Homo sapiens: one gene and its partner. The protein of the gene in region 2 purifies or fractionates together with the protein of the main gene of each other region. This does not show direct contact. Each region holds a gene or a part of one and is shown on either strand. Other genes may lie near its edges.

The links.
Region 1: the proteins of RBM33 (region 2) and MYO9B purify together in Homo sapiens (affinity purification with mass spectrometry; 2 studies listed by BioGRID and IntAct, with this or other methods). This does not show direct contact.

What each region holds. Positions count from the first base shown.
Region 1 is NC_000019.10:17,196,044-17,207,070, forward strand, and holds part of MYO9B (unconventional myosin-IXb), read left to right. Parts: intron 1-1,748; coding exon 1,749-1,815; intron 1,816-2,140; coding exon 2,141-2,265; intron 2,266-4,249; coding exon 4,250-4,383; intron 4,384-4,595; coding exon 4,596-4,786; intron 4,787-5,882; coding exon 5,883-5,981; intron 5,982-6,086; coding exon 6,087-6,260; intron 6,261-6,798; coding exon 6,799-6,840; intron 6,841-7,103; coding exon 7,104-7,215; intron 7,216-9,219; coding exon 9,220-9,293; intron 9,294-9,916; coding exon 9,917-10,109; intron 10,110-10,204; coding exon 10,205-10,333; intron 10,334-10,635; coding exon 10,636-10,741; intron 10,742-11,027. UniProt on the Homo sapiens protein: Myosins are actin-based motor molecules with ATPase activity. Unconventional myosins serve in intracellular movements. Binds actin with high affinity both in the absence and presence of ATP and its mechanochemical activity is inhibited by calcium ions.
Region 2 is NC_000007.14:155,637,440-155,649,054, reverse strand, and holds the start of RBM33 (RNA-binding protein 33), read right to left. Parts: upstream 4,395-11,615; 5' UTR 4,179-4,394; coding exon 4,136-4,178; intron 1-4,135. UniProt on the Homo sapiens protein: RNA reader protein, which recognizes and binds specific RNAs, thereby regulating RNA metabolic processes, such as mRNA export, mRNA stability and/or translation.

The DNA of each region.
Region 1 (11,027 bases), on a different chromosome or scaffold from region 2:
GAGCAGCATCCCTGGCCTCCACTTACCACATGCCAGGAGTATTATCGATAGATGATGGATGGAGGGAGGGAGGGAGAGAGAGAGAGAGGGAAGGATGTGTGGGTGGGTGGGTGGGTGGGTGGATGGATGGAAGATAGAGATGATGGAAGGATGGATGGAAGGAAGATAGAGATGATGGAGGGATGGATGGATGGAAAATGATAGAGGTGATGAATGGAAGACAGATATAGATGATGGATGGATGGAAGATACACATGATGGATGAAGGGATGGATAGATAGAAGACAGGTAGTAATGATGGATAGAGGCATGGATGGATGGATGATACAGATGATGGGGAGATGGATGGATAGAAGATGGGTAGAAATTAGGCTGGGCGCGATGGCTCATGCCTGTAATCCCAGCATTTTGGGAGGCCAAGAGTTTGAGAGGAGTTCGAGACCAGCCTGGCCAACATAGTGAAACCCTGTCTCTACTAAAAATACAAAAATTAGCTGGGCGTGGTGGCGCATGCTTGTAATCCCAGCTACTTGGGAGGCTGAGACAGGAGAATCGCTTGAACCTGGGAGGCAGAGGTTGCAGTGAGCCGAGATCAAGTCACTGCACTCCAGCCTGGATGACAGAGATGAGACTCCGTCTCAAAAAAAAAAAAAAAGTAGAGATTATGGATAGAAGGAAGATAGATGCCGACGATAGATGGATGGAAGGAAGATAGGTAGGTAGAGACAATGAATGGAGGGATGGAAGATAGGTAGAGATGATGGATGGCTGGGTGGGTGGATGGATGGATGGATGGACAGACAGAAGGATGGGTGGATGGCTGGAAGATAGAGATGGAGAGATGGAAGGAACATAGAGTTGATGGATGGAGGGATGGATAGATGATAGGTAGATTATGGATGGGAGGAAGATAGAGATGATGGAGGGACGGATGGGTAGAAGATAGGTAGAGCCGGGTTCGGGGGCTCACACCTATAATCCCAACACTTTGAGAGGCTGAGGCGGGTGGATCACCTGAGGTCAGGAGTTTGAGACCATCCTGGCCAACGTGGCGAAACCCCGTCTCTACTAAAAATACCAAAAATTAGCTGGATGTGTTGGCGCATGCCTCTAATCCCAGCTACTCGGGAGGCTGAGGCAGGAGAATCACTTGAACCTGGGAGGCAGAGGTTGCAGTGAGCCGAGATCACACCATTGCACTCCAGCCTGGGCAACAAGAGCAAAACTCCGTCTAAAAAAAAAAAAAAGATAGATAGAGATGACAGATGAAGAGATGGATGGAAGGCAGATAAAGAGGATGGATGGGTGGAAGATAGAGACAATGAGTCAATGAGTAGAAGGATGGATGGATGGATAGATAGATGATAGATAGATAGATAGATAGATAGATAGATAGATAGATAGATACATAGATAGATAGATGGGCAGGCAGGCAGGGTCTCTTGGGCTAAGGCAAGGTTTCCTACCCTCCACACTCAACATCTGGGGCTGGCTCACTCTCTGGGGTGGAGACCATTCTCTGTAGGGTATTGAGTAGCATCCCTGCCCTCCACTCACCAGAGGCCAGAAGTACCCACCCACTCCTTTCCCCCCACCCAAGTGGTGACAACCAAAACTGTCTCTAGACATTGCCAAGTGTCCCCTGGCAGGGGCAGAACTGCCCAAGTGAGAACCCAAGAACCACTAAGACAAGAAAATGCCACTGACTCACTCTAGTCAGTAAAAGCCATGTTTCTGTGATCTCGCAGGGAGAGGCGCACCTCCTTCTCCACGAGCGACGTCTCCAAGCTCCTCCCGTCCCTGGCCAAGGCTCAGGTAACAACAACACGGCAAAACCCCGTCTCCACTAAAAATACAAAAATCAGCCAGGCGTGGTGGCGCTTGCCTGTAACCCCAGCTACTCAGGAGGCTGAGGCGAGAGAATCGCTTGAACGCAGTGGCAGGGTAGAGGTTGTAGTGAGCCTCGCGAGACCAGGCCACTGCACTCCAGCCTGGGCAACTAGAGTGAGACTCCGTTTCAAAAAAAAAAAAAGCAGGAAGTGAGGTCGGTGGATGGAGTGTAAATGCCTGCAGGGGCTTCCCCATCTAGCACAGGACTGCCAGCCTTTCCTTAGCAGCCCCCCACTGCACCGTCTTGCAGCCTGCAGCAGAAACCACGGACGGAGAGCGAAGTGCGAAAAAGCCAGCTGTCCAGAAGAAGAAGCCAGGCGACGCATCCTCCCTCCCAGACGCAGGGCTGTCCCCGGGCTCTCAGGTCGACTCTAAGTAAGTATTGGGCTTGGGGGAAACTCAGGCCACCAGAGGATGCCCGGGGTCCCTGCCAGGGCCTCGCAGCAGTGTGGCCTCCTAAACCAATCACGTTTACAAAGCACGTTCGCAAAGGCATTTGCTCAGTAGAAACTGAATGGGGAGGCCAGGCAGTGGCTCACGCCTATAATCCCAGCACTTTGGGATGCCGAGACGGGTGGATCACTTGAGGTCAGGAGTTGGAGACCAACCAGGCCAACATGGTGAAACCCCATCTCTACTAAAAATACAAAAATTAGTTGGGCATGATGGCAGGCACCTATAATCCCAGCCACTCGGGAGGCTGAGGCAGGAGAATCGCTTGAACTCGGGAGGTGGAGGTTGCAGTGAGCTGAGATCATGCCACTGCACTCCAGCCTGGGTGACAGAGGGAGACTCCGTCTCAAAAAAAAAAAAAAAAAAAAAAAGCCTCTAGGGCAGGATCCTTCCTGCCTCTTCTGGCTTTTGGGGGCTCCAGGTGTTCCTTGGCTTGTGGCTCCATCACTCTAATCTCTGTCTCTATCGGCACTTGGCCTTCCCCTCAGTGTCTGTGTCTTCTGTCTTCTGTCCCTTAAAAGGACACGTGGCTGAATGGATGCAGTAGGTCACGCCTGTAATCTCAACACTTTGGGAGGCCAAGGTGGGATGATCACTTGAAGCCAGGAGTTCAAGATCAGCCTGGGCAGCGTGGCAAAATCTTGTCTCTGCAAAAAAATTTCAAAAATTAGCCAGGCAGGGCGGTGCATGCCTGTAGTCCCAGCTACTCAGGAGGCTGAAACAGGAGGATCCCTTGAGGCCAAGAGATCAAGCCTGCAGTGAACTGTGATCATACCACTGCACTCCAGCCTGGGCAAGAGAATGACACTCTGTCTCAAAAAAACTTTTTTTTTAACTTAAAAAGATAATGAGCTAGGCGCATGGCTTGTACCTATAATCCCAACAACTCAGGAGGCTGAGGTGAGAGGATCATGCTCGTGAGGCCAGGAGTTTGAGGCTGTAGCGAGCTATGATCACACCACTGCACTCCAGACTGAGTCACACCCCAACTGGAACAAAAAGAAAAGAAAATGGAGTCCCCCTGTGGCTTCTGTTTGGTATCCTTCTTTCTTCACATAACTCCCCTGCCAGTACAAAGAAAGGGCTATTGCTCTTTATAAGATAATCCTGTGTTGTTTTTTTGTTTGTTTTTTTTTTGAGACAGAATCTTGCTCTGTTGCCCAGTCTGGCAGTCTGGAGTGCAATGGCTCAATCTCCGCTCACTGCAGCCTCCACCTCTCAGGCTCAAGCGATTCTCCTGCCTCAGCCTCCCAAGTAGCTGGGAGTACAGGTGTGCACCACCATGCCCAGCTAATTTTTTTTTCTTTTTTTTTCTTTTTTTTTTTTTTTGTATTTTTGGTACAGAAGGGGTTTCGCTATGTTGCCCAGCCTGGTCTCAAACTCCTGGGCTCAGCTGATCCACCCACCTCAGCCTGCCAAAGTGCTGAGATTACATAGGCGTGAGCCACCATACCCAGCCAGATCCATTTTTGTTTTTGTTTTTTGTTTTTTTTTTTGAGACAGAGTCTCACTCTGTCACCCAGGCTGGAGTGCAATGGTGCGATCTCAGCTCACTGCAACCTGCAACCTCCACCTCCTGGGTTCAAGCAATTCTCCTGCCTCAACCTCCCAAGTAGCTGGGACTACAGGAACCCACCATCACGCCCTGCTATTTTTTTGTATTTGTAATAGAGACAGGGTTTTGCCATGTTGGCCAGGCTGGTCTCAAACTCCTGACCTCAGATGATCCACCCGCCTGGATCTCCCAAAGTGCTGGGATTACAGGCATAAGCCACCATGCCAGGCCAGATCCTTTTTTGAGTCAGGCATTGATAGAGCATTTGCCATGTGTCCAGTCACAGGGAGGCTGGGCCTCACGTCCATTTTCATTTCAGACTTAAAAGAAGCCACGTACTTTCTCCTGCAGATCCACGTTTAAGAGGCTTTTTCTGCATAAAACCAAGGATAAAAAATACAGCCTGGAGGGCGCAGAGGAGCTGGAGAATGCAGTGTCCGGGCACGTGGTGCTGGAAGCCACCACCATGAAGAAGGGCCTGGAAGGTTGGTAGCCTGCAGCCTCAGGGACAGACAGTAGAGCCACCAGTGCCCCTGGGGACATTCACTGTCCCCAAACGGGGCCTTGAGTTGGCTGTGGGCCAAGCCCTAGGCACAGAGCCAGGGGTTTCTGGCCCTGGATAAAGGCGTGCCATAGGAGGTCCCCTGCATCCTCCCCCTGAACCCACCCTCACCGGCTGCTTCCTGTCCCCCCTCAGCCCCCTCCGGACAGCAGCATCGCCACGCTGCAGGTGAGAAGCGCACCAAGGAACCAGGAGGCAAAGGGAAGAAGAACCGAAATGTCAAGATTGGGAAGATCACAGTGTCAGAGAAGTGGCGGGAATCGGTGTTCCGCCAGATCACCAACGCCAATGAGCTCAAGTACCTGGACGAGTTCCTGCTCAACAAGGTGGGATCACTAGGCGAGGGCCAGGGGCATGAGGCCCGGTCCCCAGGGGAACCATCACAGCCAGGCATTGTTTTCTGAAACACACAACACAGGGTTTAGCAGGTCAAGAATACAAAGTCCAGGCTCAGGCCGGGGACAGTGGTTCATGTTTGTCATCCCAGCACTCTGGGAGGCTGAGACAGGAGAATCACTTGGGCCCAGCAGTTCAAAACCAGCCTGGGCAACAGAGAGACCCCATCTCTACAAAAGGTTTAAATATTAGCTGGAGTGGTGGTGCACACCTGTAGTCCCAGCTCCTGGGGGCTGAGGCAGGAAGATCGCTTGAGCCCAAGAGGTCGAGGCACCACAAGCCACGATCGCAGCACTGCACTCCAGCCTGGGTGACAGAGCAAGACCCTGGCTCAAAAAAAATAATAATGCATATTTGGTCTCAAAGCAAAGATTGATGAAGCACTGTGTGCAACAGAAGTGGAGGCGAACAAGCTGTGGCTGCCCTCAGGAGGGTTATACCCCGTGGGGGTGGGGGGTGGGCAATCCTGCAGCAGATAGAGCTACATTTGGGAGCTGCACAGCGGGCACAGGGGGCCGATGGGGACACAGAAGGATCAGGAAACCCTGCTAGGAGTAGAGGCATCTTGAAATTACCAGGCCATTCCAGGCATCCCCATCCTAAGGTATGGCTGGGTGTTGAGCCCCTGTGTGGGGCAGCAGGAAGGGCCTGAACTGACCTGTAGCTCTCATCTAGGGGGGATTCTGTCCGCCAGGGAACACTGGCAATGTCTGGGGACATTGGGGTTATCACAGCCTCAGGGGAGGGCGCTGTTGGCATCTGGTGGGTGGAGGCCAGGGATGCTGCTTAACCTGCTGTGGTACACAGGGCAGGCCCCAATGTGGAGAGTAGTCCTGCCCTCAATGTCAGTGGCTTTAACTCTGGGTTGACAAGATGAGAGACCAGGCTTGGCCAGAGGGACTGGATTTTATCCCGAGAGCCTAGGGGATGACTTAAGAGAGGATAGAAGTGACCCCTTGGGCACCTCCTCGGGTACGCAGGTCCCCAGGCCTGAGGCACGCAGGGTCAGTTCCTCTCCCCTTCCAGATAAATGACCTCCGTTCCCAGAAGACGCCCATTGAGAGCTTGTTTATCGAAGCCACCGAGAAGTTCAGGAGCAACATCAAAACGATGTACTCTGTCCCGGTATGTGGCGGCCCGGCCTTCAGCCTTTCCCATACCCTGCTCAGACCCGTCATTCCCATCCGCCCCTTGCCCAGGCCTGCAGGGTGACGCCTAGCATTCCTACAGAACGGGAAGATCCACGTGGGCTACAAGGATCTGATGGAGAACTACCAGATCGTCGTCAGCAACCTGGCCACTGAGCGTGGCCAGAAGGACACCAACCTGGTCCTCAACCTCTTCCAGTCACTGCTAGATGAGTTCACCCGTGGCTACACCAAGAACGACTTCGAGCCAGTGAAGGTGGGCAGCCCAGCATGCCACGCCCACCTGTGACATGCCACGCCTACCCATGCCTCGCCATCCTTAGCCACGCCCACCCATGCCTCACCATGCTTATGCCACACCCACCCATGCCCTGCCCATACCACAGCCACTGTGCCATGACTTGATCCACTTATGCCATGCTTACCTGTGCCTCACCATGATCACTTATGCCACACCCACCTGACATGCCACACCCACCCATGCCATGCCACGCCTATGACATGCAACATGCTATGCCTACCCATCCCTTGCCATGATTACATGCCATGCCCACCTATACCATGCCGTGCCCATTTGTGCCACACCTACCTCCTGGTGGGGAGCCCTGCACCCTCCCCAACAGAGCCTCACTTCTGGGTCTGGGGTGTCTGAATGGGGGCGTTAGGGACAATGATGCCACTCCAGGTGAGGGAGGGTTCAGGGTACCCACACGCCTGAGTTATGGGGTGCCAGGGGTGGGTTGGGGCTCTTCCCAGGGGGGCCCCCGCCAACCTCCTCCTTGTGTTCCTCACAGCAGAGCAAAGCTCAGAAGAAGAAGCGGAAGCAGGAGCGTGCTGTGAGTAGGCTGCACATAGATGAGAGTCCGAGCAGGCGAACATTGGCAGGAGCATGCACGTGTGTGTCAGTGTCAATGTGCGCATGGGCCCGTCTGCACGCGTATGTGTGCGTGGACACGTGTGAGTGTGTTTTTCCCCCGGCATATACGGAGCCGTAGTCTTGAATAAGTCACCCCTGAGATCCCATGGGTCGTCATCCACCAGTGGCTGGGGAGGGCTGCCTTCCCCTTTCCCTGCCCAGCGCCTTCCTCTGGCCTCACAGGTCCAGGAGCACAACGGGCACGTGTTCGCCAGCTACCAGGTTAGCATCCCGCAGTCGTGCGAGCAGTGCCTCTCCTATATCTGGCTCATGGACAAGGCCCTGCTCTGCAGCGGTGAGTGGCTCCCCCACCAGGCCCCAAAACCCTCCATGTCCCCCACCACCCCTCACTGCTCAAGAGGTCTTCAGGGCCAGGCGGGGTGGCTCACACCTGTAATCCCAGCACTTTGGGAGGCCGAGGCAGGTGGATAACGAGGTCAGGAGTTTGAGACCAGCCTGGCCAAGATGGTGAAACCTCATCACTACTAAAAATACAAAAATTATCTGGGCACAGTAGTGGGCACCTGTAATCCCAGCTACTCGGGAGGCTGAGGCAGGAGAATCACTTGAACCTGGGAGGCGAAGGTTGCAGTGAGTCGAGATCGCGCCACTGCACCCTAACCTGGGCAACAGAGCAAGACTCTGTCTCAAAAAAAAAAAAAAAAAGGTCTTCACCCCAGCCCAGCCACCAGGTCAGATCTTTCTGGACCGTTGTCCCAGCCATATCCCACCCCCTCAAACCGTCCACCATCACCGGAGGAGCAGAGCCCAATTCTCAGCTGGCCCCAAGGCCCCCAGTAGCCAGCACCCACCCACATCTGCAGCCTCCTCTCCTCGTGGGCCCTGCCTCTCTGTCTCTGTACACGCTGCTCCACCGCCTGAACCATCGGCCCCTCCTTCCCCAGGCTCCTCACGGTCCCTCCCCTGTAGGCCAGACTCAGCCCCAGGGGACCCTAAGAGACAGGGCCCAGGAATGACCCAGCTGATCCATGCTCACACAGCTTTGATATGGCCAAGTCAGTACCCAAGCCCAGGCAGCCTCCAGAGGCCCAGCAGGGTCAAGAGGGCCTCTCCTACATGTGTTTTTCTGCCAGAACCATTTGGGCCAGGGTCTTTTCAGCCCAGAAGGCAGCCCCACCACCCCACATCTGTCCAACAGTCAGTTGTCATGGTCCTGAGATAAGGATGCGGGACCCAGGCCCGTCCCCTCACCTGATTCCATCCTTGCCAGGTGCCAGACACTCTCTTCTTTAGCGTAACCAGTGTACCCTCTGCAAGGCGTCAGCTGGGTGGCCTGGGATTCAGTGTGGTTGGAAGAAGGAAAAGCAGCATTGTCTTTGCCCCGTGACATCTTCGTCCCAAGTCCCCAAGGCCACCTCCTGGCAGGACCTTTAGACCTTTAGTTCTGCCAGTAGGTGGCCTTGGGGACTTGGGGCAAGGATGTCACAGGTCCCCACAAACACCTGCTCATGGTTCCGCTAGCCAGGCTGGGTCTGAGGCCATGAATGGCCACCTTGGAGCTATGAAGTTTGTCCACACAGCCTCCTCTCTCAGGAGTCAGGGCACAGGTTCCTGCAGTGTGGGTTTAGAAGTTGGCAGGCCAGGCACAGTGGCTCACACCTGTAATCCCAGCACTTTGGGAGGCTGGGGCGGGAGGGTCGCTTGAACTCAGGAGTTCTAAATCAACCTGGGCAACATGGCAAGACCCCATCTATACAAAAAAAAATACAGAAATTAGCCAGGCACGGTGGTGCACGCCTGTAGTGCCAGCTACTTGGGAGGATCACCTGGGCCTGGGAGGTCAAGGCTCCAGTGAGCTATGATAGTGCCACTGCACTCTAGCCTGGGTGACAGAGTGAGACCCTGTCTCAAAAAGAAAAAGAGAAACCAAAAAGAAGGCAATCCAGGCCAGGTGCAGTGGCTTACGCCTCTAATCCCAACACTTTGGGAGGCCGAGGTGGGCAGATCACCTGAGGTCGGTAGTTCGAGACCAGCCTGACCAGCATGGAGAAACCCTGTCGCTACTAAAAATACAAAATTAGCCAGGCGTGGTGGCGCACACCTGTAATCCCAGCTACTCGGGAGGCCGAGGCAGGAGAATCACTTGAACCCGGGAGGCGGAGGTTGCAGTGAGCCGAGATCACGCCATTGCGCTCTAGCCTGAGAACAAGAGTGAGACTCCATCTCAAAAAAAAAAAAAAAAGAAGGCAATTGGCGGCCCCCGGCCAGCTGGGTGGGTGGCTGCAGGAATCTGGGGTCCCCAGCACCCTCTGTGACTCCCACCCTGTGGACCTCCTAGTGTGCAAGATGACCTGCCACAAGAAGTGCGTGCACAAGATTCAGAGCCACTGCTCCTACACCTACGGGAGGAAGGTGAGTGTACGAGGCCTGGAACTTTCTACAATGACACTCCACTCACGGCCAGGTGCACCAGGAGGTGGTGCTTGATGTGAGGGCCAAGCGAAGCATTGAGCAGCCAGTAGGGGGCGGCTGTGGCCTCTGGTTCTGCAGAACACACCATTGTCCCCGGTTCTGTACAAACTCCTTGAGGCCCTCAGGCAGGGCCCAGGCCTGTGTGTGTGTCTCAGCTCCCCCAGCCCTGCTCATCCTTGCTCCTGAGAGAGTCCTGAGCCATGCAGAGGGAGGCCCCCCAACTCTGTGCATAAGGTTGGGGTCCTGGGTGCTGGGGGTGCAGCAAGAGTCAGGGTCTACTTCTGTGAGGTGGCTGTGGGGGCTAGGTTATAGCTCTCTCCCCACGAAGGACCACCCATGCCTTGGGTGGCCTACAAAGGAAGCCCCTGCCCAGTGGCTGCCATGCTGGCCTTGACTTCTGCAGCCCCACACCCCCAACAACCACGCAGAAGGAGACAGGGAGGGACAGAACAGCAGAGGAAGCCCTGAGGGCCTTGTGCGGGACCAGGAGGCAGAGGCCCCCAGAGACAGCTGGAGAGGAAGACAGCCAGGCCCAGACCTGACCCCCAACCCCGGCACTGCAGGGCGAGCCAGGCGTTGAGCCTGGCCACTTCGGCGTGTGCGTAGACAGCCTGACCAGCGACAAGGCCTCGGTGCCCATCGTGCTGGAGAAGCTCCTGGAACACGTGGAGATGCACGGCCTGTACACCGAGGGCCTCTACCGCAAGTCGGGTGCTGCCAACCGCACTCGGGAGCTCCGGCAGGCGCTGCAGACAGGTGGGCGCTGTGGGCAGGTGGGTGCAGTGCCAGGCCCCAGGCACAGCCGTCCTGCCAGTGCGCCGCTCACCAGACCCACCCCACCCACCCCACAGACCCCGCAGCAGTCAAGCTGGAGAACTTCCCCATCCACGCCATCACAGGGGTGCTGAAGCAGTGGCTGCGGGAGCTGCCCGAGCCCCTCATGACCTTCGCACAGTACGGCGACTTCCTCCGAGCCGTCGGTGAGCCCCATGGCGGTGCGGGTGGCAGCAGGTGGCCACAGCCAGGATACAGCGTTCGCTGTGACCAGCCCAGGAGGCAGGACCACCCAGTTCACAAACTGAGAAACTGAGGCCCAAAGCAGTCGGCCCAGCCAAACCGGGTCCCCAGTTTGGGGTGGGGCCAGGACACCTCTGTAGCCATCCATTCTTGCCTGGGCACCACAGGGTGGATGGCACCTGTGCATCTCAGGTCGTGTTGGTGGGGACAACAGGCACCTTGGGGACCCTTGGGAGCTGACGTCCTCAAACCCCACTGCCTGCAGAGCTGCCGGAGAAGCAGGAGCAGCTGGCTGCCATCTATGCCGTCCTGGAGCACCTTCCAGAAGCCAACCACAACTCCCTGGAGAGACTCATCTTCCACCTTGTCAAGCAAGTGCCTCCCCACCTGCCCTCTGTGGGGTTAGGGTCGCATTGGGAACCCGCGAGGCAGCATTTCCCAGGAGGACCCGAGCTGGCGTTCTGTGGTGGTTTCGAACCAGGATGCAGACCACTGTTGGGGGTTCTGGGAGGGGGCCAGGCTGCTGGGCCGCCCGGGTCCCTTGAGGTACCTCTCTGTGCTGCGGAAGCATCTCCCAGTGCTGGGCTGTGGCACTGCTTTCCCAACAGCCACCCCAGGGCTCAGAAGTTCAGTCTCGGGGCTCCCTGGTACCTCCCT
Region 2 (11,615 bases):
AAATTTGGTGAAAGACATGAACCTACATATTCAAGAAGCTCACCACTCCAAGCAGGATAAATCTGGAGACCCACACAGAAACACATTATGATCACACTATCAAAAGCCAAAGACAAAGAGAATCTTGAATACACCAAGAGAGAAGTGACATGTCATGTACAAAGGATCCTCCATAAGATTAACAGTCAATTTCTCATCAGAAACGATGGAAGCCAGAAGGTGATAGGATGAAATATTTCAAACTGCCATTCAAAAATTATATCCCCAGGTATGACCTAAGGGACTTTGTCATTAGTACACCTGCCCTACAAGAAATGCTAAAAGTACTCATGGCTGAAATGAGAAAGGCTATTCTTTCCCGACTCCTCAAACTCTCTTGATTGAAGCTAAGAAATTAAGCATGAAAGATTTTCTTGAAGGAAAAAAAAAAAGAATTAAATACACACATAATTATCAGTATGAAAACATCTCATTTATCAGCACTATTAGTGATTAAAATGCTCCAAAAATTTCCTACCAGGTAAATTTTACCTGTTGAAGTACTAAAACTTGTTTCACTTTCACAATTTCGAATGAAAACCTTCTGCACCATGCTTCATACTTTCCTGCCTTACTACATACTGACACAGTGGAAGGAACACTGAACTAGAAGTCAAAAAACCTGAATTCGAGTCTACTTCCCTTTCTTAACAGCTAGGTGGCTGAACTTTTCTCGGCTAGTTTACTATCAAATGTAAATTAAAGCAACTGGTTTAGTATCTAAAGTCTTAACTCATCCCAGCAGTGTATCTTGCTCTAAAATTTTACCAGCCTAGGATTTGTTTGAAATATACAAAAGTGGAGGTGGGGGGATGAAAACAGATTGCCAGAATGTTGATGCTAGGTGATGGGTATGTGGGTTCATTATTCTACTACTGGATGTGTTTGAAATTTCCCATTAAAACTTTTTATTTCTAAGAATTGACTAGAAAACAAAAAATTTACAAGCACCCATTTTTTCACCTCACCTATAAAATCAGATTAGCTCAGGCCCAAGAATGCTGTTGTAAATCTTAAGTGAGATAACGCACTCACTAGGTTGGAGGCTTTTTACGATTTGTGTACTGATTTTTTATTTTATATTTTACAAGGAAGCACTGGAACTAGAAGATCTTGAAACTCATTAAACTATTTGTTCCTTCCCCAAAATGCCATGTTTTTGCCTTTATGTTTTTGTTTTCAGTCTCCAATAAATAACAGTTGTCATTCTCTCTGCTATTAGTAAGGATAGCAATTCCATTTCTCTATCCTTACTACTTGGCTGCAATACCAAATGACTCCTTTGAAATGTATCATGCCAAGGCATGGTGGCTCACGTAATCCTTGCACTCTGAGAGGCTGAGGCGGGCAGATCACTTGAGCCCGAGTTCCTGCCTGGGCACCTTGGCAAAACCCTGTCTCCACAAAAAATACAAAAATTAGCCAGGCGTGCTGGTGCACACCTGCAGTCCCAGATACTCAGGAGGCTGAAGTGGGAGAATCAACTGAGCCCAGGAGTCCAAGGCTGCAATTAGCCATGATTATACGACTGCACTCCAGTCTGGGCAACACAGCAAGACCCTGTCTCAAAAAAAAAAGTAAAAAATAAGCAAACACTCCTATAGACACTTTGTGGTACCCATTTTGGCTATCCAGATTGTGGATAGCCAAGACCTATTTTATTCAATAAATACTAACCACTTACTATACAAGAGACCAGTGATTTTCAAACTGACAATCTCGAACATTTTGTAGGTTGTGAAATTAATCCAGGTCACAACCAGCATTTTACTGTAATGAAATAGAAAACATTAGAGTGCATGGCATAGTATGGACCAGTATTGTTCATGAAATTTTTTTTAACTTTTATGTATGTACTAAATCACAATGTCAATCACATTTCTGTGGCTGCCATTTTAAGAAGTTTGAAAGTCACTGTGCTAGACAATATGCTAAACTGAGCTGCCAAATAAGCTATCGATAGCTCAATAAGGTATTACCAATGTAAATATTTCTCCAAGCTAACATGATTTAATCAGTTACACAGGTAAATCACGTGGAAATGACTAACATAACTTAGCATACAATTATATTATTTCCTATTCGTAAAGAAAACATTTCATCCTTTAATTCATTCACCAAATGTTTGTTGAACACATGCTATGTGCCAGGAACACGTGGAACGCATGGTAAAACAGGTAGCATTTTTGTCCTCATGAGGTTTACAGGCTACTGTGGGAGGCAGATTTAAAAAACAAGTAAAAACTGAAGAAAATTACAAATTAAGATAAACGTTCTGAAGAAAACAAACAAAGGTGCTAGAGAATGAAGACAAGAGAGGCACAAGAGCAACGGACATACATTCCTCAGATACAATGAATTCTCAAGGAAAGCCTCCCTTAAAAGCGTGAGATCCACTGGATCAGGAGTCAGCCCTGGCAAGAGCGGGTACAGGAGCAGTCCATGCGATGAACTTCCAGGATAAAGGAAGCAATCACACAACATGCTGGTGGGGTAGGCAGGGACCAAGTCATACAGAACTCACAAATCTTGGCAAGGAGTTTGGTATGAAGAGCAAAGGAAACTTTGGCACTTGTGACAAAATGGAAGGAAAAACTCCAAAGCATCATGAATAAAGCCTACTTATTCTTCTAAAATAGCAATTCTCAAAACTTCTGACCTCAAAATTATTGAAGACCCAAAAATGCCTGTTTATCTGGATTACATTCAGTGATATTACTATTTTAGAAATTTAAAATGAGAAACGTAAAAGAATACACAAGCATATATTCCATTAGCCATCAGCATAACGTCTTCACATGTTATTCAGCCTCTAGAAAACTCCACTGTACACTACTGAAAGAAAAGAGAAAAAATACAAATAACACCTTAGTCTTTCTAATGAAAAGAGTGTTCACCCAAGAGTTCCCAGGTTACACTGGGAATGCTATAAAACAAGTAATTCTGACCCCCAGAAAGATAGGTGAACTATACATTTTAAAATTTTAATTAGTCTCAGATGTAACACGCAAACATCATGTATTTAAACTGAAAGAAAAGTGGCATATAGCAAACCAAATTGCCAGAAGCGACATTCCTACACTTAGTCTTTTTTGTTTTTCCATTTTGTCAGGCAAACGTTTTGACAGTTGGGCCAAAATTCCTAAACAGGATGATAACAACGTAACCATCTGCTAGCATTTACTAAAAAATACTTCTCGAGTATACACTAGACTGGCTTTTCAACGTTTCAATGGTAAGAACTAATCCCAAATGCTTTTGTTATCCATATTTTACCATCTTTTCAAAGTTTTCAAAATAATCACTTAAAAAGTCACTTTCAAGTATCTCTCCACGTTTTTAAAACCCCCAGTGATATGTAATTTTACCTGAAAGTAATTTACCTACAATTTTTTAGAGATAGGTGTTTCATCAATACTGTTTATGCTTGCAAACAAGAAAAACTATCCAAAGGAACTGACTCAGTATCTAAACCTTTTGTGTCACGTTTTCACTTTTGGAAGACGCACATAAAACACTAACAGGTTATTAGACAACAAATAAGTTAATTTAAAACAGGGATTTATTGAGACTTTCTCAAGAAATCTCACTTTCCAAACTGGCCTACTGTCGCACATTCCTTCACACAGGTGAATCTTTTCGTTATGTTTTTGTAATGGGCTTCAAATCAATCTAAATCTGTCAGGATGGCCCCACAATCTTAAACACCCACCCTACAGCGACCTGCCCCGCTCTCCCTAAGTGACACTGTCTCGGGGGGTGGGGGGGGCGCTCTCCTACCCATAGGACACCAGGCCGGCTTCGGCACTTAATGCCCGCCAACGCCAGAGATGGGCCTGACACTTAGGCAGCCTTGCAAAGTAGAGGACACACAGAAGTTCACAGGTAAGTACGATCTGCACAGCGGAGAGGAGGAGCGAGAAAGGGAGAATGACAATAGCGAGGGAAGGCGAGGGAGAAAACGGAATAGGCCGAACACAAAGAGAGTCGGAGCCGGGGAGAGCCTCGTCCTCTCCTAAGCGGGGAGGCCCCCCGGCCTACACCCCCGCCCACCGCGGCGCGGTCCTGGCCCCCAGAGTCCGGCTGCCTCACGTACCTCCGGCGCCTGCTCCTCCGCTCGCTCCCAGGGCGGCCGCCATGGCACTCGCGGGGCCCGGCCTTCAGCCTCCCCCACCAAGCCAGCTGGTGGGCCGACGTGCCTGGTCCGGGCCCGGGTACGGGTGACGGAGGACAGAGAAGGGAGGGGGCTGCAGGAGGCAGAGGCGAAGCCGGGCGCTTCGCGGTCCACAGCTGGCCCTTCGCCTCCGCAGGAAGAAAACAACAAACTACCGCAACATGGCCGCGCGCCCGCGCCCGCCGCGGTGCACCCTGGGATGATGGAGGCCGGGAGGCGGGCGGGCGCCGGGGCCTGCCCCCGCCGAGGCCGCAGCAGCCCTGAGGCCGCCGCCGTGTTTCGGGCGGTGGGCGTGCAACGCAAACACGCGGCAGTCACCTCCGCCCGGCTCCTGAAACCCAAATGTTTGAAGCAGGGCGGGGACGACTGCTGGCCATAGGTCGATTCCGGGTTCAGTCGTAAGGCGCTTTGCAGCAGTCGGCAAAGCGAAGCTTTACGGCAGCCCGTCTCCCGTTAGGAGCCGGGGAGGCAAGGTCCAGCGTACGGTCCGGGGGAACCTTAACTGTCGTTTCTGTGCCTGGACAGTAGGTTGGAGAGTGGGGTCTGAATGAGCTACAGTAGTGAACGCCGACGGCTTGTGTTGAGGGCAGGAAAGGGTGCACACAGCTCCGGCAGGTGCTTCCGCGAGGTGAGATGAGTGCCGCGCGCGCCGGGCTAACGTGCACGCGCACTCGTGCGGCGCCCGCGAGCCCTCACTTCCTACAACCCGAGACCCTCCGGACCCGCGACCCCGGACCCCCGTCCCCTTCTCCGCGCCCGGCTGGGCAGCGGGCAGCGCCGGACCCTGATGGGCTCTCGGCCCTTACTGCCCCTGCGCCTTGCGGCCCTGAGAACAAGACGTGAGCAGGACGGATAGCGCCCGGCACTCATGTCTGAGTTTGCATTTTGAGCAGTGAGAAAGGTTAAGAAACGAAATCCTCATACTTGACATAAAGGAAAGGGTGCTGGGTGGTCAGACAGCTGTGGACGAAAGGGCTCAGGGGTTTTGGGGTGTGGGGCCCGGGAAGGCGCATCTGAGTGGTCGCAGTCGGGGAAGGGGGTTGATTAAGTACACACCGGCTGTAAACATTGATTCCATATCGGTCAATGTGGGGCTTAGGTGAGGCGTTCTGACCCAGCAATGAAACTGGAAAGGTAGGCAGGGGCCAGGATTCCGGACTTTGGGACGTTTTTCTGAGTCTATGGGGTCTATTGAAAGATTTTAGAAACAATTTACATGGTAAGATTTGTATTTTAGAAAGGTGACTGATACAACAACGTAGAGGACCCTGCAATGTGGAGAGGCATGAAACTGGAGGTCCAGTGCCGTGAGTTAACAATCAAGACGTCCATACAGGAGATGCATTGGTGGATGGGTGAAGAGATGATAAAACGGTACGTATAATAAAATGCTGGCCGGGCGCGGTGGCTCACGCCTGTAATCCCACCACTTTGGGAGGCTGAGGTGGGTGGATCACGAGGTCAGGAGTTTGAGACCAGCCTGACCAACATGGTGAAACCCCGTCTCTACTAAAAATACAAAAATTAGTTGGGCGTGGTGGCACGCGCCTGTAATCCCAGCTACTCAGGAGGCTGAGGCAGGAGAATTGCTTGAATCGAGGAGGCGGAGGTTGCAGTGAGCCGAGATTGCGCCACGGCAATCCAGCCTGGGTGACAGAGCGAGATTCTGTCTCAAAAAAAAACAAAAAAATTATTCAACTGTGAGAACTCACTCCCCAAAAAAAATGTTTTGCAAGCAACTCATTGAAAAATGGTCTCTATTAAAAAGCACGTTAATACATCCATATTTAAATGGCTTGAACTCTTTATCACCTTTCATTATTTTTTGAACTGTGGAGGATGGCATGCCTAACTCAGAAAATATTTTTCAGGATAATTCAGTGGTGATCTTCAGAAGAATTCCACAAAAAACCAAATTAACAGATGAAACAATCTCATAAGCCACTTGAAACTGAATTTCTCTAGAACAAGAGTCTATAAAATTTTTTGATCAAACACCCACTGGAAAAATTTTTTAGCGTGGACACCCAGTATTTGAAGTTCTTGGTAAATTACTGTGAGTAAAGATTTAACCAACCCCTTGTCCTTATCTATGAACAAACTTCACTTTGTGTTAACTTTAACTTGTCATAGAAACCTTATGAAGGCAGAGTGTTCATTGTGGTATAAAACAACATTGGTTGTAGGCCAGGCGCGGTGGCTCACGCCTGTAATCCCAACACTTTGGGAGGCCAAGACAGGTGGATCACCTGAGGTCAGGAGTTCAAGACCAGCCTGGCCCACATGGCAAAACCCCATCCCTACTAAAAATACAAAAATTAGCTGGGTGTGGTGGCACATGCATGTAATCCCAGCTACCTGGGAGGCTGAGGCACAAGAATCACTTGAACTCAGGAGGTGGAGGTTGCAGTGAGCCGAGATCACACCACTACACTCCAGCCTAGGTGACAAGAGTGAAACTCCATCTCCAAATAAATAAATAAAACATTGCTCATGGTAAAAATGACCTCTGACATGTAGACTGCCTCTGGCTTGAAAGTACTGAATAATCTTAAAACACCTAGTGGGAAGCCATACCTTTAGCCTCTGTTACTGTCTTAACTGAATGTGGGAATCTAAAAGACAAACTCAGGGAACTGGTTTCCCGCCGGTCAAGGACTTCCAAGCCAAGCCCCCACCCATAATGGTTTGCTCCTGAATTGCATTTGGGCCAAAGAGTAGAGCTCTTCCATGCCTGTACCGCAGTGAAGTGTGTTTCTTCTCCTCAGTCCTCCAAAGTGGAGCTGCTGCCAGGCGTGGCATTATATGAGTGTCAGGGGTTAAACCTAAGAAGACTACCTAGTGAGCGCTGCAGTTTCATACATATCCTACTGAAAATCTTAAAAGCAAGCTTTGCTTTTTTGTAAATAAAGCGAATATAGAAGTCTTTCTCGTCTCAGTAATGATGAACTGGAAATTCTGTTCCCCTCCTCCAACAAAACAGATTCTGTGGAAAACATTTTTTGTTGTATTGCTAGGTTTTAGGAATAATGTTTCCAAAGGATCAAGAAGGAAGCAAAACGCTGGGCACAGTGGCTCACACCTGTAATCCCAATGCATTGGGAGGCTAAGCAGGTGGTTATCACTTGAGCCAAGGATTTCAAGAGCAGCATGGGCAACATGGCAAAACCCCATTTCTACAAAAAATAAAAATAAAAATAGCCAAGCATGGTGGTGCATACCTTTAACTGCTTTGCATAACTACTCTGGAGGCTGAGGCGGAAGGATCATCTGAGTCCAGGAGTTCGAGGTTATAATGAGCTGTAATAGCACCACTGCACTCCAGTCTGGGTGACCAAACAGAACCCCATCTCTTAAGCAAAACAAACAAACAAAAAAAAAACAGATCCAAAGCCTGAGCAGTTAGTAGTGTACAGGAAGTTCAGGGTTTCACTGGGGAAGTCATCCCCATTTGCACTGCTAATAGGAAGCAAATTCTTGGACAGCTTTTGAGGAGGGAATCTAAACCCCAGGCTCCCAAATTAGGCCAGAGATCCTGGAAGGGCTTTCTCAAATTATCCCCTTATATTCTTCACAGTTTAAGGTCAACCAACTATGGACTTAAAATCAAAGATCACAAAATGCACGAGGGAAGAAACCACTGTAAGTGAAAAATACAAACTAGATTGACCTCCTAGGGACTTTAGTTATTAAAATTACCATAAAGGACAATATTTGAAAGGTTTAAGGAAATAAAGGATGAAAAAAATCAAGAAGAGACTGTCTAGAGTAGCCAGAGAGTGCTTCCTTTTTGTTGTATCTGAACAATGTCCTAAAGCCATTAGGCAGCACTAGTGGTATAGCAGGGCTGGGAGAGGTGGGGAGGGATGTGCTGGCCAGGCTAGAGGATCGGAGCCCAAGCATGTGTTCCAGCTCATACCCTGTGAGAGGGCTGCCCAGCAAGGCATGTGAGAGCACCACAGGTTTCAAAGTATGTCCTGTGGATTGGCAAAGTGAGGAGGGCATCCACCCATGGGGGCAGTTCAACATGGGGAGTCACACATGACCGGGTTACTAGGACATGATCCTGAGGGATGGGCCCAAGGTGGAATTCAGGGCCCTACTGGGATGAGGTGGGAGTTGCCAAAGATAAGTAGACTAGAACGGCAGAACACAAGCATCGTGAGAGTTTTCACACAGGTGGGAGGCAGAGCACAGGGAATCAGAACTCCAGTTATAAGGGGACCTACACAGAAGAAGGTGACAACAGAGATGGCATGTTGGTTATGAACAGGGAAATTGATCAGATATATAAATATATGAAGGGTGATGGAGCTAAGTTTCACACTGTGCAAATAGGGAGTTACTTATATGAAGAAAAAGCTAAAATTAACCCTATGGTGTGTCACTAGAATAAAGAATCAGAGTGATTGCACTAATGGTTTTTGATAATTGTATTTCATTGTAGGAATAAATGTATATGCAAATATGTGTATGCCTGTTTTTGTATAACTGTGTGTGTGTGTATGTGTGTGTGTTTCCTAACTGTCCACCAAGAGTGCCCTGGAGACAGCAGCCCATCTTGAGCACACCCAGCACCTAGACCTTGGTTTCTAAATACCACTTTTCAAAAGGAACCAGTATTACTTGGAAAAACAACTGATTTCAGAACTGGGGCATGGAATTCGCAAGATCAGCCTGGAACATCTTGTTCCCTCCAAAAATCAAGGAAGTGCTTGAATAGTGATAAAGATATGTCAAAATGACACAGAAGTGAGATTTAATGGGCCAAAGCAGAGATGAGATGAGCATCAAATTAAATAATGAGAGCAATAGACTAAAAACAGGAAAGCTTGTGTCTATACAAATATTGATAAATAATAAATTGAACTTTATATGGAAACAGTATATCAAAATAGTTAAGGTGTTCCTTCCTAGAAAATATATATTAATTACATAGTAGAAAAGAATAATTTTCAGTGGAAAAGCCTCTAAAACCACCCTAACTGATCAAAGTAAACATTTTCAATAATGGGATAAATAAAAGTTGCCACCTGATATAATACAATAAGAAGAGTACAGCATCACTTCTGTGATCATCCTGTCAAAGATACCTAACCAAATCTAATTCTGAAGAAAAAAGGACAAACTCAAATTGAGAGACATTCCAGAAAATAATTGGCATGTAATCTTCAAAGATCTAATTACGAAAGTCAAGGAAACACTAAGAAAACATTTCAGACTGAAGAAGAAAAAGACATCACAACTAAATGCAATAAATGATCTTTTCACTCTTATTGGGACAATTTGCAAAAATTGATAGGGTCTGAAGGTTAGATGGCAGTAACACACCAAGTTAATTTCCCGATTTCAGTGATTAATACGCTGCATGTAGGAAGAAAGCCTTTGTGGTAAATACATACTACATACAGTGCTTGTGGCTGATGGGGCATCTGCTCAGCAACTTGGTCACACATGATTCACAAAAAAAGTTTAATTTTACTCTTAAACTTTCTACGGGTTTGTAATGCTTCAAACAAATTAAAGAGGAAAAAAAATCAAACACTGTTCAAAATACAGTTGTTAAAAAACCCAAAGGCAAAATTACACAGATGAGACAGAATTGAGAGAATTTGGGAATTAAGGGTAGACAAAAAAATTGCGCAGAATATAACACAAAGAGGAAAGGAGATGAAGGATGTGAATGAGAGGTTTAGCAATTGAGAGACTGGAATGAGGATGCCAAACACGTGATATAGCTTGAATGTTTGTATTCCTCCACCCCAAATTCATATGTTGAAACCTAATCCCCAAATGTGACAGTATTTGGAGGTGAGGCCTTTGGAGGTGAATAGATGAATGAGATGAGTGTCCTCATAAAGAAACCCCCAAGAGCTGCCTTGCCCCTCCCGCTGTGTGAGGTTAGAGTGAAAAGATGGCCACCTATGAGGAATGGGCCTTCACCAGACACTGAATCTGCTGGCACCTTGATCTTGGACTTCCCCACCTCCAGAACTGTGAGAAAGAAATTCTGTTTATAAGCCACACAGACTGTGTTATTTCATTACAGCAGCCTGAAGGACTAAAACACTGTAAAAGTGAGGTTCCAGAAGGAGAGAATAAAAAGTATAGAGGAGAGGCAATATTCGAAAAGATGATTTCACATGATTTTTAAGAATTAGTGAAAGACGTAAATCCAAAGATACAGGAAGCATAACAAGCATGGGGTAAAAAAAAAAATAAAAAAATCCACATCTAGACGTGGTGAAACTAAAAATTTGAATAACCAAAAAAGAGAAGATATAAAAAGCAGCGAAAGAGAAACTTCCACCTCTGGCCATCATGGAGGACTGAGACAGGCTTCTCACATCACAAACAACTTGAAAACTGGACAGATTTGGAAACACTCTTTTCAGACATTGGAAGACAGGCAGTCGAGGACCATGATCCCTGAGAGAATGGCAGCAAACGAGGTGGGCCTTATGATAACCCAGCTTTCTGGATTGTGAGGCAGGAAGGGGAAACTCAGGCAGAACACAGTGGTCTTAATGATTTGGGGCCACAGGGATGACAATTTGTAGTGCAGGTGTGGGACATTTGTGGGTTGCAGTACTGGAGATGAGGGAGCTAGGCAGAGAAAGAGTTCTGGAAATCTGCATGGAGTCACCTTGAATATGTTGCTGTAGGGTGAAACTCCACGAGGACAGACAAAGTACATCGGGAACAACCAGAAAGCTAGAGTAAAGGTTACTCCAGAATCTCCTAACAGAGTTTTAGAACAATCCTGGAAGGGAGTATGCTGATCAGCAGGTAATTTAATGGCCTGCCAGAACAAAGTCCAATATTTTTTAAGACAACCACATTCGGCACTCAATAAAGTAAAATTCATAAAAGTCCAGCATCCAATCAAAAATCGCTACTGAAGTGAAGGAGCAGGAATATATGACCAATACCAGGAAAAAAATTGATCAATAGAAATAATATGACAGAAATGATGGAATTACCAGGCAAAGAATTTCAAACAGTTACTATACATATGCTCAAGAATTTAAGGAAAAACAAGGCCATAATGAAGAAAGACATAGATAGGAAGTGAATATTTTAGAGCTGAAAAATACAGTATTCAAAATAAAATGTTCAATGGGTAGAAATAAAAGTAGTTAGAAATTTCCAGTTTTATCTCATAGACGTAGAACACTGGATAAAGTATCACTGCCAAGATTACAGCAAAAAGAACTGTAGCTTTCTTGAGCCCATCAGAAAATCAACATTGCAGAACGACCAAATAACTGGAAATCTAGGGAGAGACACCTCGGAAGAAAAACAGGACCTGAGCATTTGCTTACCTGGGAGAGAAACAAATGATGCCATATGTGTGGGAAATAAGAGTCAGCTAAAACGTTTAGAATGAATTTCTAAATAC